2 linked regions of the Homo sapiens genome follow. The protein of the gene in region 1 interacts with the protein of each later gene in a pairwise test. Each region holds a gene or a part of one and is shown on either strand. Other genes may lie near its edges.

Region 1 (3,816 bases):
CTGTTTGTATCTCACTATGTGACCCTAAGTGTAGTCCTTCCCTGAACTCTCTGACCCTCAGTTTTCTCACCTGTAACATGAGGCAGTTAAACTGAAAGTACCTTTCAATGCTAGAATTCTTTGAACTTTTCAGTTGAGTAAACATTTTTCAAGCCCCTACTGAGTGCCAGTTCTGAGTGAGTAGGCAGAGGAGAAACAGAGAAAATAAGACATGTTTTCTGCTCTAGATTAGAGTAGATTAGAGTTTTTAACATCCTTTCCATCTAAAGCATTGTCGATGAAAAGTTTACATGGTGAATTGCCTTTAGGGGAGGAATTTTATGTTTTTGTTGTTGAAGACATTTGTGAGTCCTCTGGGATCACTTGGCCTGGCCTCATTTCTCCCTGATTCTCCACAAATACATATTGAACACCCCCATGAGCAAGCCACTGCCTAGGCATTGTGGGTGGGCTGGGGCCTGGGGAGTTGGGAAGGGTGGTCATGGTATATGCATCCAGGAGGCAGAGTGGTGAAAAGGAAAAAGTGCAGGCCTGGGAAACCAGTGTCCTGGTTATGACTTTGGGCAAGCCCCTTCCCCACTCGGAACCCCATTTATAAAATTTATAAAATGTTTCCCCATTTATAAAATGAAGGGCTTTGACTAAGTGTTTGCACAGGTTTCTCCAAGCACTGATGTTCTGTGATTCTGTGATTTTAGGATTGTCTGGGGAAATATTGATCTGCAGTCCAAGAAAATCCCAGCTGCCCTTGCCTGAACTGATTCTCGTTGTCCTACACAGAGACCTGAGGGGCGGAAGCCGAGCGAAGTGGCGCACAAGAGCATCGAGGCAGTGGTGGCTCGGCTAGAGAAGCAGAACGGCCTGAGCCTGGGCCATAGCACGTGTCCGGAAGAGGTCTTCGTGGAGGCCTCGCCAGGCACAGAGGACATGGACAGTCTAGAAGATGCTGTGGTGCCCCGGGCTCTGTATGAGGAGCTGCTGCGCAACTACCAGCAGCAACAGGAAGAGATGCGCCACCTCCAGCAGGAGCTGGAGCGGACTCGGAGGCAGCTGGTACAACAGGCCAAGAAGCTCAAGGAGTACGGGGCACTTGTGTCTGAAATGAAGGAGCTCCGTGACCTTAACCGGAGGCTCCAGGACGTGCTGCTCCTGCGGCTTGGCAGCGGTGAGTGCCCCAGCAGGTCACCTACCACTCCACTTGGGTGAAATACTTCATGCAGATCCTCTTCCAGGAAGGGAAAGGGGAGAGGGAGACCAAGTGCCCTGAGGCTAGGGAAGGACAGACTCTTGGCTTACCAGTTACCTCAAGGAAGAGTCACTCCCCACTCATAGTGAATCTGGTAGGAGCTTATGTATGCAGCAGCCTCAGCTATGGGAACATTGGCGAACATGGGTCAGAGACTAAGAGCTGACAAAATATTTGTCACTGCTCAGTCCCTTATGCATTCATTCAGCAGGAGGCAGTAACAGGGATCGTAGGGAACCTCTCCAAGGAGGTTTCAGGATAGTAAAAAGAAGTAGACATGATCCTAACAACATGTATTAGTTTAAGTCAGAAAGTGATAAATGCCAAAGGAGAATGCTGACAAAATGATATGAGAATTCAGGGGTTGGAGAGGTTATTTGTAACTGAGGGCATGGAGAGACTTCAGTAAGAAACTGAGCTTTGAAGGTTGGGCAGTGTTTCAAGGCACAAGAGGAGGCTGAGCAGCACTGGTGAGCATGGGCAAATACCTGGAGCACACTAAGAGGAATAATGCAAATGTGCTTTGAGGACAGAAGATGGAAGGACTTGAAAACTTTACCAGCCTGGGATGTCTGGACTTGTTTTGGTAGGAATGGAAAGCATTAGAAAGCTTTGAGCAGGGAGGCACATGACCTTAGGAAGATGAATATAAAGACGTATAAAACTCCTTTGGTTTGCTCATAGAACTTAATAGGTTCTTATATTGCACCCTATTTTAACTAATCAGGTTTTCTGATCTAAAGTGGTTTAGAAGCAGGGATCGAGAAACCTGAAAGGCAGCAGCTTTGACTGCCGGAAGAAATGACTGCTTACCAGAGAGAAAAAGACAGAAAAATGCTTTTAGAATATAAGAATCCAGAACTGTAAAAGATAGAGCCCAGTCAATATTGAGGAAATCGGTATAACACAAGTTCTTTGCCTCCATAGCCCCTGAAGACAGTAATTAATAACTCTGAGTCAGTGTGCTTTGCTTGAAGAAGGTGGTAATCTAGTCTAGAAATATCCCCAAAGTTTAAATAAAATACAATTTTGCCCTTGTGAAGGTTTTCATTATCTAGATAATATATTTAGATATGAAGCTTCATTCTTCTTTGATTTATTCTTACCCTAATTTACTTATATTTGTAGGTGTCATTTGCTTCTTAAAGTATATCCCCAAGGTAGTGGCTCAGTAGATCTTTGGGTGGTCCAAGAAGTCAGCAGAGAGGCCTTTCATGCCCTTGTCATAGAAAAGGAAATGACATTGGGACTTCCCCAGAGTTACTTAGGGAGGCAGAGGTAGAGTTCTGTCTCAACTCTAGTCACTCAATTCATAGGCTGGACTTTGTCCACTCCCCAACTCTACCATTGCCTTGGCCATTGTCCCAAATCATAGTCTACAGAGGTTCACAGTGACACGAAAAGTCGCATATGGTTTGCAACTTCAAAAGTTAGTAAAGTTCTTTATTAAAATAAAATCTCAAAGAGAAATCATAAATGTAAAAATTTGTAAAAGCTGTATTGTTCTTGTAGTGGTGATGGGGGATGGGGATAACTGAAATTTTCAGAGAGAAAAAATGTTTCCCAATCTTAAAGTGAATAATTTGCATTTTCAGTGTGCTTTGTATGCTATGCCTTTTATGAACTTCTTGGGGGCTTGTGGGGAAGTACACCAAAAACAGAAATTCTTGGTACTTAATTCAACTCCCAGGGAAACTACCTGTTTTTCATGATTATGAACTGAGTTTAAACTCTAGAAACCACTCCTAAGCCTCTGGGGTGGTAAGACACCCTGCATTTTACATCATTATATGCCTCTTTTAGTCCTAAAACATGTAGAAAAACTTGACCTGAAGCATAGTTTCAGTGTCTTGATCTTTCTAGGCTCTCCCATCCCACAGGCCTTGAAGGCCATTGCACAGGCCAGTGGCTAGCTCTTCCCTGATCTGAGTCACCATCATCATTACAATGGGTTGGACTCAACATAAATCAACTGGAGCCCCAAGTATGCATAGACCACCCACCCTATCCTCTCAGGGCTACAGGCATCCTGGAAAATCACACCCACTGTCTCTCATCAGTGAAAGCTTAAAAGTCTATTGATTAACACATGTTAATAGGAGGATGCTAATGTGCCAACTTCCAAGACAAATCCGCAAGAATAAAATAAAAGGATCTCTACCCTTAAGAGGAGGTTGTATGTTTTCACGGCTTGGATTCAAATCCCAACTTCCCTACTTCCCAACTCTGTGGCTTTGGGAAGCTCATGTCCTTCTTTCCTTTCTTCCTTCCTTTCCTATGACCTTATTTTCTTCCATGAATACTTGCTGGTCTCCTGCTACATGCCAGGGACCTAGCCTAGTGTAAGAATTCAGTATATTTGCAATACAGCCCTTGCCCTCTGCCCTTGAGGAGTTTAAAGTTTGATGAGGGGAACAGATCCTGAAACAATCAATGACAGCACAGTACATAAATGCCATCATAGGGACAAAACCATAGAGGACTGTGGGACAGCAGAGGGGATTACCCACCAGATTTTGAGGGGTCAGAGAAGGAAGGCTTCCTGAAGGAAACAACTTTTAGGCTGAAGC
Region 2 (3,816 bases), about 39 Mb from region 1:
GGCAGATCACCTGAGGCCAGGAGTTCAAGACCAGCCTGGCCAACATGGCAACATCCTGTCTCTATTAAAAATACAAAAATTAGCTGAGCATGGTGGCAGGTGCCAGTAGTCCCAGCTACCCAGCTACTTGGGAGATTAAGGCAGGAGAACCGCTTGAATCTGGGAGGCGGAGCTTGCGATGAGCCAAGATCACACCACTTTACTCCAGCCTGGGCAACAGAGCTAGACTCTGTCTCAAAAAATAATAATAATAATAATTGTTAGGGGATAGGACTATATAAGAAACTTTAACTTTCCAAGTCACACATTTTTGTAAAACTAATATTTTAACATTGTACATTTGTTTCTTTGTCATAAGGGAAAGTTAAAAAAAATATTTTTAGGAGAACTCTTGCCTAGCCGAACCCACAGTTAAGAATAAAAATGAGCTCTGCCAAGTTGTTGAGGAAGGTCAGTGACCCCACTTAGCTGTTGACCTTGCCCTGAAACTGCTGAGCAGTAGGAGCAAGCTGGCAGCTGTGACCAACTGTGTGGGCCGTGGAGTCCAGGCCCTTCTGGGTGGGTGGTGTCTGTCCACAGCTACTTCTTTCTCCGGGGAGGGGTCTTCTGGAGCTGAAGCTGGAGCCAGGGAAGACCCCAGGGAATCGTTGCGGAATAGGTGGTGGGAGTCACTCCCTGCTGCTGGGGCGCCCTGTGGACTGCCCCTACCTCCATAAAGATACCTCTAACCTGGCTGCCGGGGCCTGAGCCACACAGACCTGAGCTGCAGGAGGTTCTGAGAATTCTGTGGACTGGGAGTGGAGAGGGGAGGGGTCAGCCATGTCTGGAAGAGTTTCATAAGCATATTTATTTTCTTTGCGAGCCTAACGACACCACAAACAAACACAACAACAATAACAGCAGAACTGCAATCAGCCCAGTCCCATACTGGGCTTACCCATGTGAGGGCAGGACCCTGCATCTGCCTGTGCCATGTGGGCAAATGGATCTCTGTTAAAATCTCACCTGCCCACCTTCTCCATCGCAGAGCCAATCTCAGCTGATGCTGCAGGATCCTGCTGTCAGAGGCTCAGACACTGCTTAGGTGGAAGAAGCCCTGGATTGTTGTCTCCAGGGACTGGGGCAGGATGCGGGGGCCAGAGCAGGGTGCAGAGACTGCCATAATGAACCCCAAAGGCCTGGAGCCTGTGGGTAATGGCCTGGCGTGCACCTCCTGCCCACTAGGTGGCGCTGTCTCTCAGCAAATGCTCCAGGCTGCTTTAGGTGTTCCCTGAGCCAGAGGAGGCTCCATCTACCCCGGGACTCCTCTAGCAGGGGGTCTGAGGCAGACCCTCCAACGGACAGCACCCGACCTTGGTCCTGAGGGTCTGGCCGCCACCTTTAGCCCTGCACATGCTTCCCCTCCAGGGCTGGATGGGTCTGGTACCTGGGGCACTGCTCCCTTACTTGAGGCCCAGGGAGGGGGCCGTGGGCACCCCTTTACCCCCTACCCTTCGATTCCTTCCTCGGTCACATTTGTTGAGTATCTATGGGGAGCCAGGCAGGTGCTGGAGACCCTGGGGTGGGGGCCTCCCCTTACGGGCTCACCAGGTGGTTCCAGCAGAGGCCCCAGTGGCCCCCCAGTTCCCAGCCTGCCTGGCCTCTGCTGGGCTGAGACCACCAATGACAGCCTCCTTTCCCTCCCTTGTCCTTCACGTCACCCCTCACTGGCTGTTTCCCACTCCCTTCCCTCAATCAGGGCTGTCATCCTCCAGGGTTGCCCCCTCTCTTCTCCCTGTTCCACACGCAGTGCTGTGATCTCAACAGAGAACATAGCCAGCTGACTGTTGGCCAGCATCACCACAGCCACCCATGCCCAGCTGACATGGATTTTCCACCTGTGCTCTGCCCTGACCAATGCCCAGCAAGTACACGGCGCCCGAGGACTCAGCCTCGACTCCTCTCTTCCTCAGGAACCTAATGGGTTACTGAGTCCATCCTAAGGCTCCCCAGACCTGCTTCATTCTCTCCCTCTCATTTCCAGCCCCCTCTTGGACTGAGCCCATATTCACTCTTGTCTCACAGCTTCAGATCACTCCTATCTGGCATCTCGACTTCCCATCTTGCCCCCTCAGGTCTGCTCTCTACCCCCACAGCTGGAGAGACTTTTGGAGGCTTAGAGTGACATTAGTGGGTCTCTACTCGACTTTTTTTTTTTTTTTTGAGAAGGAGTTTTGTTCTGTCACCCAGGCTGGAGTGCAGTGGCGTGATCTCGGCTCACTGCAGCCCCCACCTTCCCAGTTCAAGCAATTCTCCTGCCTCAGCCTCCCGAGTAGCTGGGGTTACAGGCTCCCGCCACCACACCCAGCTGATTAGAGACGGGGTTTCACCATGTTGCCCGGGCTGGTCTCAAACTCCTGACTTCAGGTGATCCATACACCTTGGCCTCCCAAAGTGCTGGGATTACAGGCGGGAGCCACCATGCCCAGCCTCCACCCAACTTAAAATCATTCAGTGGCTCCCCACTGCCTTGAGGATAAAATCCAGCCCCTTTAGCTTGGTGAGCAAGACCTGACCTCACACTGTAAAGGGCCATAGTGAATGGCCATGTTCATGCCTTTCTGCCACTGCATTTGCCTCTTGGCCGCCAGGAACCAGCCTTCACCCCCACCTTACTCCCCTGCCCCCTGCAACCTGGGCCAGGCCCTCCTGTCACATGTGCATGTACCTCAGCTGTGCTACACCCACACTGTCTCCTAATCCATCTATTGACCGGGCTCTGAGCTCCTTGAGCTTGGAACTGTGGCTTCCATCTTATTGTTTGTCATGTTTGGACAAATAAATGAACTGGGTTCTAGTCCCCAAGGGTGTCTAAGCAGACCTGGAAACCAGAGAGACTTGGCTTTGAACCAGAGGAAGTCAGTACTTCTCAGGAAGGTCGCCCTGCTGGGAAGGGGCAGCTGCAGGAATGGGGAGGTCCAGAGCTTCCTGAAGCAGGCCTGTGGAGTGCTGAGTCCAGGCTTCTCTCATGGTCAGTGTGGCTCCCTCTAATGCGTAGTGATTTTTTTCCCAGTTATAGAATTGTGCATAGTCATTTTAAAAAACTGGGGAAAGGGAGAAAGAGCAGAAAAGTTTGAAATATTGAATCCTACTGCATAGCTGTAATCACTCTTACCCTTTGTTAAGTTCCCTGTCATCCTTTCACAAACATGCATACATCTGTAGCACAAGGCTGGGACCATAAACATTTTAATACCTGTTTTTTTTTCTTGTTGTTTTTTTGTTTTGTTTTGTTTTTTGAGACAGAGTCTCGCTCTGTCACCCAGGCTGGAGTGCAATGGTGCGGTCTCGGCTCACTGCAAACTCCACCTCCCGGGTTCATGCCATTCTCCTGCCTCAGCTTCCTGAGTAGCTGGGACTACAGGCGCCCGCCACCACGCCTGGCTAATTTTTTATATATTTTTTTAGTAGAGACGGGGTTTCACCGTGTTAGCCAGGATGGTCTCAATCTCCTGACCTCGTGATCCACCTGCTTCGGCCCCCCAAAGTGCTGGGATTACAGGCGTGAGCCACCGCGCCCGGCCTTAATACCCATTTTTAACATCCATTTTTTACGCATGATAATTTCACTGTGTTCTTAAATAATTTCCAATAAAACTTTTTTTTTTTTTTTTGAGACAGAGTCTCACTCTGTTGCCCAGGCTGGAGTGCAGTGGTGCTATCTTGGCTCACTGCAACCTCCACCTCACAGGTTCAAGCAATTCTCTTGCCTTAGCCTCCCAGGTAGCTGGGATTACAGGTGCATGTCACCATGCCCAGCTAATTTTTGTATATTTA

What was found.
Region 2: the proteins of BEND5 (region 1) and CTNNBIP1 interact in a two-hybrid assay, tested with the Homo sapiens proteins (one large-scale study listed by BioGRID and IntAct).

The regions. Positions count from the first base shown.
Region 1 is NC_000001.11:48,756,249-48,760,064, reverse strand, and holds part of BEND5 (BEN domain-containing protein 5), read left to right. Parts: intron 1-698; exon of another isoform or gene 699-780; coding exon 781-1,165; intron 1,166-3,816. UniProt on the Homo sapiens protein: Acts as a transcriptional repressor.
Region 2 is NC_000001.11:9,865,066-9,868,881, reverse strand, and holds part of CTNNBIP1 (beta-catenin-interacting protein 1), read left to right. Parts: intron 1-3,816. UniProt on the Homo sapiens protein: Prevents the interaction between CTNNB1 and TCF family members, and acts as a negative regulator of the Wnt signaling pathway.